Regions from separate parts of the Homo sapiens genome. Here region 1 is linked to region 2. Evidence: fine-mapped expression QTL. Tissue or cell type: whole blood. Region 2 holds a variant in brackets; the other region holds the start of a gene. All regions are shown on one strand. Distances are from middle to middle.

The links. PIP is the estimated chance that this variant, and not a neighbour inherited with it, causes the effect.
Region 1: it holds the start of MTNAP1, and the variant in region 2 is fine-mapped to the expression of MTNAP1 in whole blood (TOPMed, PIP above 0.99). The same link has a PIP of 0.9 or more in lung.

The regions. Positions count from the first base shown.
Region 1 is chr17:73,229,084-73,235,011 of GRCh38, reverse strand. It overlaps MTNAP1 (mitochondrial nucleoid associated protein 1), which reads right to left and starts at 2,579. Exons shown (of 6, transcript NM_001351264.2): 1 at 2,523-2,579; 2 at 1,687-1,792. VCF1 (VCP nuclear cofactor family member 1) reads left to right here and starts at 2,618. Exons shown (of 4, transcript NM_001098832.2): 1 at 2,618-2,926. The coding sequence starts at 2,706. RefSeq lists an enhancer at 3,125-3,901.
Region 2 is chr17:73,184,971-73,190,898 of GRCh38, reverse strand. No RefSeq gene overlaps it. Among named protein-coding and RNA genes, the nearest start is that of COG1, 5.1 kb to the left of the region's middle. The variant T/C (reference allele first, on the strand shown) is at 3,505.

The sequences.
Region 1 (5,928 bases), 44 kb before region 2:
ACTCCTGAGCTCTGGCAATCCACCCACCTCAGCCCCCTAAAGTGCTGAGATTACAGGCGCGAGCTACCACGCCCACGCCCAGCCAAAGGTTACTGATTACAGCAGAGGTTTCCAAAGTGATAAATAGAATATGCACTAGGGTGTAAGAAGAAAATATTAGAATTACCACAATCAAAGAATGAGAAATGAAGCTCTACTAACATTTAGTAATATGCATATACACACACACACACACACAGATATACATAAAATGTATGCATAATGCACAAATATATACATGGCCAAGGACACAGTCCTGTTTTTCACTTATACTTTTTTTTTTTTTTTTTTGAGACAGAGTCTCACTCTGTCACCAGGCCGGAGTGCAGTGTCGGCTCACTGAAACCTCCATTTCCCAGGTTCAAGCTATTGTCCTGCCTCAGCATCCCGAGGAGCTGGGACTACAGGCATGCGCCACCACGCCAGGCTAATTTTTGTATTTTTAGTAGAGACGGGGTTTCACCATGTTGGCCAGGATGGTCTCAATCTCCTGACTTCGTGATCTGCCCGCCTTCGGCCTTCCAGTGTGCTGGGATTACAGGCGTGAGACACCACGCCTGGCCTACTTATAGTTTCTAGTACAACAGATTACTGGCAAATTAGTTTGACATCTTTGTTAAACATATACGATGTAAAAAATTAAAAAAAAAACATTTATACCATGTATATTTGTACCTGTTATTCTTTAGAGTCCAGAAAAGAAAATGTTTAATTCCAATGTTTAGTTGAAAGTTATTTCCTTTCTACATCTCTTATTCTTTCTATAAAGTTCCAGAGGGCAGGAAACATATCTATCCTGCACACAGCTGTATGTAAAAACCTAGCACTGAGCCTGGCATACAATATTTGTTCACTTAATTCTTTAGATATAAACGTTTAAATATTATTCAGTACTACAACTGATAATATCTTCTGACTACCAAAGAGATTAAAAAGGGTGACTGAAACCACTTACAAAATAGACACAATCTTCACCAATCCATTCAATAAAGCAACCAACCCACCTTATCCTGTACGAAGTCCTTCAAAACAAAACTGTTTTCTGCCAACAGATTACAGTAATCATTTTTACTTTGTTGTTGTTTGGTCTTTTTTTTTTTGAGATGGAGTCTTGCTCTATCACTCAGGCTGGAGTGCAGTGGCGCGATCTCGGCTCACAGCAACCTCAGCCTCCCAGGTTCAAACGGTTCTCCTGCCTCAGCCTCCCGCGTGGCTGGGATTACTGGGATTAAGGGCGTGCGCCACCACGCCCAGCTAATTTTAGTATTTTTAGTAGAGACGGGGTTTCACCATGTTGGCCAGGCTGGTCTTGAACTCCTGACCTCAGGTGATCCACCCGCCTCGGCCTCCCAAAGTGCTGGGACTACAGGCGTGAGCCACCGCGCCCAGCCTGCTGGGATTACAGGCGTGAGCCATCATTCTTTCTTTCTTTGGAGGTACACACTAACAGGATGAAAGCCACAGACTGTTTGTTTACAATAATACACACAAATGAAGCCAGTCCATGGACCTTCGGCTAACAACGTTAGGAAGGGCTTGACACCTGCTAGACGTTTCTGCCTCCACTCCACCTCACACTCAACCCTACTTGAAAGATCCCGGTACATTCCCACGATAACGTCTATACGTGGGTGTCTGTTTTCTTACCCGAGCTCCTCCAGGAGGATGCTAGTTTTGTGGGTGCTTCTCCCGGATCCCCATGCTTCCCCGATCACCGTTCCCGAGTGTGGCAGAATGAAACGTGAATGTCAGCCTGTGTAGGACACGATCAGACAGGTGACTTGGCAGCATGCACAGTGAGTAAACGCGGCACGATACTGAACCAAATAGAAACACAGGTTCCGGAAAGCAGAGAGTTAAGACCTCCCCAGCCTCCGGGCTCAAGGAGGACCTCAATAGTTCCACTAATCCTCACCCTCACCTCCGGCGCTCTCCAGCCGCCTTTCCCTCCTCCCGCTGCGTTACCAGCCTGCCCACCTCCCCGCACCCTTCCTTTCCCTGAAAGCTGTTCTGATTCTGCCAGCTGTTCTGATTCTGCGGAGTGGATGGGGTCGGCCCGGCAGCTCCTGGGTCAGGGACAGCCGTTCCCGCAGCCCCACCGAGGATTTCCTCCTGCGGTTCCAGGAAGACCCTCCGCCGGCCCCGGCACCCGATTCCCTACCCTCTCCGCTCAGGAGAGTCTCCCCCAGACTTAGAACGTGGGCCGCGGAAAACAAACCCGCCCTTGCAAGCTCCCCACAGAGCACCGTCCTCACCTCGGAAGACCTGAAAGCCCAGGCGGCCCCGGCGACAAGCCCCCCAGGGAAGCCCCCCAGGCCCCTGCCCAACCCCCGGCCAAGGAACCTCGTCAGGCCGTCTGCACCACTGCCGGATAGGTCCGCCTGTTTTAAAATATGTTACACGGATTCAACTCAAATACTTGTATGATATTATTATGACATAATTGAATTTATTTGAAACCTGGCTTGACTTTTATACCGTACCCTCCGTTGGCTGTGAACAGGCGAGCGCTTCTGCCACCCCAGGGGAGGTCCTTTCTCCCAGAAGCTCCTAGTCGCTCCTCCCGCTCCGAGCCCGCCTCTTCCCGTGGGCGGGGTTACCAGTCGGTGCGGTTGGGATGGTGCCACTGCGCAGCCGCGAGAGGGCGGTACCACGGCGGCAGCGACATGGGGGGGCGCGGAGCAGACGCCGGAAGTAGTGGTGGTACGGGTCCGACTGAGGGGTACTCGCCACCGGCTGCGTCCACCCGAGCGGCTGCGAGAGCCAAGGCCCGAGGGGGTGGGCGTGGCGGCCGCCGAAACACAACCCCCTCTGTTCCCTCTCTTCGCGGAGCGGCGCCGCGTAGCTTCCATCCGCCAGCTGCCATGAGCGAGCGCCTCCGTCCCAGGTGAGAGGGAAGGGACCCCCTTTCCATTCGTCGCCTGAGGATCTGGGAGATAGAGCCGAGGGGGCGCGCGAAATGGGGGTCGGAGCAAGAGTGGACCCGGCGGGGCTCCCTGTGGGGTGCACTGCGGGCCGGGGGAGGAGGGGAGAGGGATGCGCGAGTGATCGGATGCTTGGTTCCTGTGGGTAGCTGGAAGGTGACTCTCCGGGGTCCAGGTCTCCCGCCCCTCCATCTTTTTTCCCCCCTGTCTTTTCCTATTTGGAACGAAGTGTGATCGGTCCCGGAAGAGAGACGGTGGCCCTAAAGCTTTCCTGTCCTAAATTTAGGAGGGTGGGGGGATGGGATAAACGTCTCATCTTGGAGAGGGAGCCCCCAAAGGCTTTTGTGAGGGCACCGGGCGGGGAGCTGCCGGCTCCCCAAGGTCAGAAAGAAAGGTTGGGCTTAACCCCGCAGCAGGGAAAGATTCGGTTAGACCGAAGAACTTGTGCCCTGAACGGTTGTGAACACAGAAGGGCAGATGACCAAGGCGGGTTATGGATCTTCTCTTGACTGTGGCATTAAGAACAAGCTGGATTCTAAACTGTTTGGATTGCGGGGCCGTTTGACTCCGAAGGCGGGAGGAAAGATTTTATCGCGATGCACTCGCTACCTTCCCGAGGGAGCCTGGCCTCGGGACGCGGGTCTTAAATTAGGGGTTCTGTGCTTGACATGTACTACTAGAGTCCGGACTAAGTTGGGATTTCTTAATTTTTTTCTCTCTCTTAATTTCCTCTGCAAGAATGTGTGGAGGAGAAAGTTGGGAAAGGTTACCTCAGAATGCTCTTCCTGTTACGGTCTTTCCACAAGGATCCTTCTCTGAAATAATTATTTCATGTGATTGAAGTTCTCAAAAGTATTCTGAGTTTATTTGGTCCCATAGTGAAAACCTAGGGTTCCCCAAGCTGCTGCATTGGATTATTGATTTGGGTCATGTAGCAGGTGGAGCATAAAGCCTCTCCTTGTATAGAAAAGAAGAGTGGACTAAATTTGAAATTGGGGGCCCAATTACAGACATGCCATCGGAATTAGGAGCAAGATCTTTAGATACAGTGAATCTGACCCGACTGCCATATTATTCTTTCCCAAACCCAGTTTATACTTACGATATTCTCTTGGGGTGTCTCACATATCTGAAAAAAAATCTAAATATTTCCTACAAATAAAAATTCTACTGTACATAACTAATCTGAATGCATTTATACTGGCAGTAGATTCCTTTTATCTTGTACACAAATAATCTCAACATGTTTTAAAGAAGTTATTTGATTTGGACAGGCTTTTCCTGCCAGTGTTTAATGGAGTATGATGGGCCAGCTCTGCCAGCTCTAGGATGGTCTAAGACGGTGGTTTTTCGGCTGGGTGCGGTGGCTCACGCCTGTAATCCCAGCACTTTGGGAAGTCAAGGCGGGCGGATCACCTGAGGTCAGGAGTTGGAGATCACTCTGGCCAACATGGTGAAACTCTGTCTCTACTAAAAATACAAAAAAATTAGTTGGGCCTGGTGGTGGGCACCTTCATCCCAGCTACTTGGGAGGCTAAGGCAGGAGAATCGCTTGAACCTGGAAGGCGGAGGTTGCAGTGAGCGGAGATCACTGCACTCAAGCCTGAGCAACAAGAGCGAAACTTCCATCTAAAAAAAAAAAAGGGTTTTCAGGCTCTCCCACAGTAGATTGGATAGCCGCAGAGAGGTGAGTGTGTAGTGAGGGAGTCCCTGCTTATTGATTGATTGATTGGTTGATTGATTGACTGATTGATTGACAGAGTCTCACTCTGTCGACCAGGCTGGAGTGCAGTGGCCCCATCATGCCTCACTGCAGCCTCAACCTCCCAGGCTCAGGTGATCCTCCCACGTCAGCCTCCTGAGTAGCTGGAGCACAGGTGTGAGCTACCACACCCAGCTAATCTGTGTATTTTTGGTAGAGGTGGGGTTTCACTATATTGCCCAGGCTGGTCTTGAACTCCTGGGCTCAAGGGATCCACCCGCCTCGGCATCCCAAAGTGCTGGGATTACAGATGTGAGCCACCTCACCAGACTGGGAGTCCCTACTTTAACAGATCCTTTATCTCTTATATAGAGAGAATTTTTTTACAGTAAGAAAGAAAGAGTTCTGTTACTTTTTAAAATAAAGTTTGAAAACCACTAGTTTCCATACTCTTTTTTTTTTTTTTTTTTTTTTTTTTTGAGATGGAGTCTCACTGTGTCGGCCAGGCTGGAGTGCAGTGGTGCGATCTCGGCACACTGCAACCTCTACCTCCTGGGTTCAAGCAGTTCCCCTGCCTCAGCCTCCCAAGTAGCTGGGATTACAGGCACACGCCACCACGCCCTGCTAACTCTTTTGTATTTTTAGTAGAGACAGGGTTTCACCATGTGGGCCAGGCTGGTTTCGAACTCCTGACCTCAAGTGATCTGCCTGCCTCAGCCTCCCAAAGTGCTGGGATTACAGGTGTGAGTCACCGTGCCCAGCCCATACTCTTAAGATTATTTCTATGCCGAGTCTCTAGGAGATGACAGGAAGGTTGGAGAGAAATGAAATAATGCAACGTGATGGAATCAACCATCTGTAGAAGTAACAGATGCTAACTGGTAATCTGCACCTAGATGGTTAGGGAAGAATATAATCAGTTATAGGGGTGCCTGCTAAAATCATAACCTGGTCTGTGGCATTAATGCCAAAAATTGTAATCTGATTGATTGAACTGATAGGGATGAGCATGAAGCTGTAATCTTGCCAGTTGTTAACACCATTGTTGAAAGAAGAATGTTTCAAGGATGAGATCTGCTAAGAGCCTAGAAAAAGGCAAATGAAGAGCAGGTAGGACTCTTTCTTAATCTGGTACCATCCAGAGGAGAAGGCTACCAACAGGCCAAAGAGATTATTCTGGTGCCTTGAGAGATCAAGTAATTTATGAGGCAGGGATATTTCATGTGACTCTCCCAGAGATTAGTTGAAATCCACAAAATCATC
Region 2 (5,928 bases):
CAAGAGGATCACTTGAGCCTCTGGAGGTCGAGACTGCGTCAGTGAGCCATGATTGGGCCACTGCATTCCAGCCTAGACAACAGAACAAGACCCTGTCTCAAAAAAAAAAAAAAAAAAAAATCGCAGGTGACAGGGGCGATTGCATTTTGGTGGTGGCACAGGTATCACCGGCAACATCCACTCCCTAAGGACAGCAAGGGCAGTGAACTTAGCTCCAGCTCCCAGCTGCTAATGCTGGCGGTGGTGCTGGTGGCAGCCGTGGGCACCCACAATGACGTCCTCGACAGAATCACCATGTGGTGTGCTCGTCTAGGTTTTAAATGTTCTGTTTCCCTTCCTTCCTTCCTGCCTGTCCCCTGAACCTGCCTCCCCATCTTTCCCAGAGATTCTATGAACTGTGCAGTGTCTTACTGATCAATTTTGTTTCTTTGAAAATCAAAATCGGTTTCCCTGGTTTGCCCTAGCCCTAACTGATATACACTGCACTAAGGTTCCAGCTCCATGAGAGTTTGGTTGAAGCCTTTCTTACAGCAAGGGGAGAAATGTCAACATATCAGGGATAGTGGGGGGCCCAGGGCTTTGTATGGGATGGTCCTTGCGCTTGTGCACAATACCTGTAAGCTCAGGTAGAGAAAAGACAAACTGGCCAGCTGTCAACACTGCAGTGTGTGTGTGTGTGTGTGTGTGTGTGTGTGTGTGTGTTCTGAGTCAGGTAGAGAAAAGACAAACTGGCCAGCTGTCAACACTGCAGTGTGTGTGTGTGTCTGTGTGTGTTTGTGTGTGTTCTGAGACAGGGTCTCACTGTTGCCCAGGCTGGAGTGCAGGGGTGCAATCACGGCTCACTGAAGCCTCCACCTCTTGGGCTCAAGCAATCCTCCCACCTCTGCCTCCCTAGTAGCTGGGATTAACAGGTGTGCACCACCATGCCCGGCTAATTTTTTAATTTTTGTGTAAAGACAGGGCCTCACTCTGTTGCCCAGGCTGGTCTCAAACTCTTGGGCTAGAGGGATCCTCCCACCTCAGCCTCCCAAAGTGCTCGGGTTACAGGTGTGAGCCACCTCACCTAGTCCAGAGTGTGGTTTGAAATCAGGGTGTTCCCTGCCTTTCCTCTGTATTTCCCTGGCCAAGTTCATCTGACTGGCCTGAAGATGCCACTGTTGTTCCTCTGCCTGCAGAACTGAGCACTGACAGAAGCTGTCACCTGACTGCCTGGTCACTGGAAAAGCTCCTGGCCCTGGAGGAAATGTGTCTTTAACTCTTTCCTCTCCATGGCTCCTTTCCTTGTCCTCTGCCTCCCAGGACAGCACCACCCCCTTCCTCTGCCTTCTGCATATCAGCTGGGACCATCAAAACCACGGATCAGGGGCAAAGACCTCAGCTGCCACAGCCGGGCCAGGCACTGTGCCGGGGACAGCAAGACAGAGATGAGAACCTGGAGCCTTTTTTTCTCAAGGTATTAGGAGGTACCTGAGTGAAAGAGGCACCTTTTCGCCTTATTGCCATAGTTTAGTTCTGGTATAGGGATGAGTTCATGTGTGTTGTGTGATAACCTTTAGCATCAAGCAACCTGCGTGAGTTCACACAGGTGCCTGTCTTCAGATCCCCTGGCTCTAGAAGTCCTTGATCTTTCTACATTGTCACATTATTAGCTTCAAAGAAAATTTCAGAATATCAAGAAACAGATGGCTCAAACAATTCTGAGCACCATTCGGATGGTACCCACACTGCTTCCTGATCTCTGCCTAAGGGTGGGTCTCTACAGTCAGTTTGGGCACCCAAGTTGGAGTGGCTATCCAGTGATTTGGGGGCAGATGACACATGGGGTGGCCATGCCTGGTAGCCAAGCATCTGCATGCTGGAGGGCAGTCTTTCAACACAGTGGATATATTCTGACATTTTAGTTTCTTTAGACCCATCGGCACACTCTTTTTTTTTTTTTTTTTTTGAGACGGAGTCTCACTCTGTTTCCCAGGCTGGAGAGCAGTGGCATGATCTCAGCTCGCTGCAGCCTTCCCATCCCAGGCTCAAGCAGTTCTCGTGCCTCAGTCTCCCAAGTAGCTGGGACTACAGGCGCGCACTACCACACCCGGCTAATTTTTTGTATTTTTAGTAGAGACAGGGTTTCACCATTTTGGCCATGCTGGTCTCAAACTCCTGACCTCAGGTGGTCTGCCCGCCTGAGCCTCCCAAAGTGTTGGGATTACAGGCATGAGCCACAGCGCCCAGTCCTGATCAGTATAGTCTTATTCAGAACATTGAGCAGACAGATTTCTCCTGTTATTTATTTATTTATTTATTTATTTGAGACTGGAGTACAGTAGCATGATCACAGCTCACTGCAGCCTTGACCTCCTGGGCCCAAGCGGTCCTCCCACCTCAGCCTCTGGAGTAGCTGGGACCACAGGAATGCACTACTACATCCAGCTAATTTCTAAATTTTTTGTAGAGATGGGGGTTTCACTATGTTGTCCAGGCTGGTCTTGAACTCCTGGCCTCAAGCCATCTTCCTGCCTCAGCCTCCCAAAGTGCTAGGATTACAGGTGTGAGCCACTTACCCAGCTCTCTTTACTTTTTAATAGAAATATAGAAAGCAAGCCAGGATAATGCCCAAAGTGGAGAGTTTCAACATTGCAGATTTTGTAGACACCACATGTTCTTTCCTTATGCAATCTGTGATCTAGCATCTGGGAGCATGGGTCCCATAGATCTTGGCTGTCAAACCAAATGATTCAATAAATATTTGCAAAATATGCCAAGCATATATGTTACATAATCACAGTGTCTACACAAAGGATGCACTGGAAAAGGCACAAGGGCTTTTCGCCCTCAGTTGTCTAATTGAAATAATAAAAGCAGTAAGACAATTCTCACCCATCTCATCTCACATCCACTTCAACCCTTCTTCCAATACCTCCTCTTCGATGTAAGGTGGCTGCGTTTTTGGCACGTCCATATAGACTCTGAAGAGTGAACCTGCTGAATCTTGTACCTGGGCCCTGATGATGTTGGACGAAGGGTCATTCTCTGATAAACTTAGGAGGGAATTAAAGCTGGGGATACCTGGAGAAGAGAAAATAAATGGGAGAGACAAAATTACCCAGGAAAATGAAAATAAGAAATTTAATTCTAGCTAAGCTAGGAGAAATGGAAAGGGTGAAAGCGAGAAGGAAGAAAAAAGGAAAGGAGAGGAAATTGGAAATTGATCACAAATTAACAAACAGGGGAGGAAAGAAAGGGAAATTTGATGTTGTAAGGGATACACTGTCAATAAAAGTAACATCCGGGGCAGGACAGGAGGTTGAATTCCACACTATTGCTCAGTGGGATTCGGACAGTTGGTGTTTGCTCTTGGCTGAGATGCCAATGGGATCAAGAGAGCCCTAATGTAGTTGTCTTGACATCTTATCTTTATGGCAGTGTTTATCAGCCTGTGTCTACTGGAGGTGACATTTGTGGTAGAAGCGGTGGTTATTTGACTTAACTGTTTGCAGATACCTGAGACTC[T/C]GCCTTCAGCAAACAGCCAGGCAGGCATGTTTGCAGAAACTCCTACATTTGTTCCTCCTGCGCCTATACTCCTGTCTTGTACATCTGGCTGCCTCCTTAGAAACTCCACTTGGGGCCGGCGACGGTGGCTCATGCCTGTAATCCCAGCACTTTGCGAGGCCAAGGCCTCCCAAAGGATCTCCTGAGGCCAGGAGTTCGAGACCACCTGGCCAATATAGTGAAACCCTGTGTCTACTAAAAAAATACAAAAATTAACCAGGCGTGGTGGTGGGCACCTGTAGTCCCAGCTACTCAGGAGGCTGAGGCAGGAGAATTGCTTGAACCCAGGAGGCAGAGGTTGCAGTGAGCCAAGATTGTGCCATTGCACGCCAGCCTGGGTGACAGAGTGAGATTCTGTCTCCAAAAAAGAAAAGAAACTCCATTTGGATGTCTAAGAGACATCTCAAATTTAACACATCCAGAATAACAACTCTCTTCTTAGTGTCCCTCCTAGGCCCTCACTCCAAGTCATTCCTATCTCAAGAAATGGCACCGCCCAGCTATTCATGGCTCAGACTCAGGAAGTCTTCCATCTCTCTCTCACTCTGCATACCCAGTGCTTTCACAAGCCCTATCGGCTCTTCCTCCAAAACACAGATGGATGAGCTTTTGCTATAAAGAGCCAGATAGTAAGTGGACTTTGCAGACCCTGCAGTCTCTGTCTTTTTTTTGGGGGGGGGGGGGGTGGCGGTAAAGATGGGGTTTGACCATATTGGCCAGGCTGGTCTCGAACTCCCGACCTCAGGTGATCCGCCCATCTCAGCCTCCCAAAGTGCTGGGATTACAGGCATGAACCACTGCACCCGGCCAACCTTGCGGTCTCTGTCAACACAATTCAGCAAGCCCGTTGTCGCCCCAAAGCAGCAACAGGCAGCACATCCGCAGGTGGGTGTGGCTGTGTCCAGTAAGACTTTACAGGCATCCCCCAGTATCCGAGGGGGATTGGATCCAGGACCCCTGTATATCTCCAAATTCGTGCACACTCAAGACCTGCGGTCAGCCTTGTGAAACCTGTGAGTATGAAAAGTGGACCTTCCATATACACGGGTTTTGCATCCCACAAATTCTCTATTTCCAATCACTGTTTGGTTGAAAAAAATCAGGAAAAAAATGGACCCGTGCGGTTTAAACACGTGTTGCTGAAAGGGCCAACTGTATTTAATAAAACAGGCGAAGGGCCCATTTTGGCTCTTGGACCATGGTTTGGTGACCCCTGCTCTTTTTCCATTTCCACTGGTCCAGGTTAACAGCTTCTCATCCTTTCTTTCTTTACTTTTTTTTTGAGATGGAGTCTTGCTCTGTCGCCCAGGCTAGAGTGCAGTGGCATGATCTCGGCTCACTGCAACCTCCACCTCCCGGGTTCAAGCGATTCTCCTGCCTCAGCCTCCCAAGTAGCTGGGATTACAGGCATGCACTACCACACCTGGTTAATTTTTGTATTTTTAGTAGAGACAGGGTTTCACCATGTTGGCCAGGCTGGCCTCGAACTCCTGGCCTCAAGTGATCCGCCTACCTCGGCCACCCAAAGTGCTGGGATTACAGGCGTGAGCTACCACGCCCGGCCCTTTTCTTTTCTTTTTTCTTTTCTTTTCTTTTTCTTTTCCTTTCTTTCTTCCTCTTTCTTTCTACAGAATCTTGCTCTGTTACCCAGACTGGAGTGCAGTGGCACAATCACAGCTCCCTGCAGCCTTGACCTTCCCAGGCTCAAGCAATCCTCCCACCTAAGCCTCCTGAGTAGCTGGGACAACAGGTGTGTGCCACCACAACTGGCTAATTTTTAATTTTTTTTTTTTGAGAGGGGGTCTCACTTTGTCACCCAGGCTGGAGTGCAGTGGCAGGATCTCAGCTCACTGCAACCTCCACCTCCAGGCTCAAGCAATCCTCCCACCTCAGCCTCCCGAGTAGGTGGGGCCACAAGCACGTGCCACTGTGCCTGGCTAATTTTTGTGTTTTTGGTAGAGAAGGGGTTTCGCCATATTGTCCAGGCTGGTCTTGAACTCCCGAGCTCAGGTGATCTGCCCTCCTCAGCCTCCCAAAGTGCTGAGATTATAGGCATGAGCCACTGCATCTGGCCTAATTTTTGAATTTTTTGTAGAGACAGGGTTTCACTGTGTTGCCCAGGCTGGTATTGAACTTCTGGCCTCAAATGATCCTTCTGCCTCGGCCTCCCAAACTGCTGGGATTATTGGCGTGTGCCACCGTACCCAGCCTCTACTTCTGACCCCTTTTAGTTCATGCTCCTTGCTACAAAGCCGACTTTTAAAAGTGGAAACCAGGTTTTGTGTATCCTCTGCTTAAAACCTCCCCCGGCTGCCCATCCCTCTTGGCCAGATGCAAACTCCCATCAAAGACCTTCAAGTCCCTGCGTGGCCTGACCCTACCTGA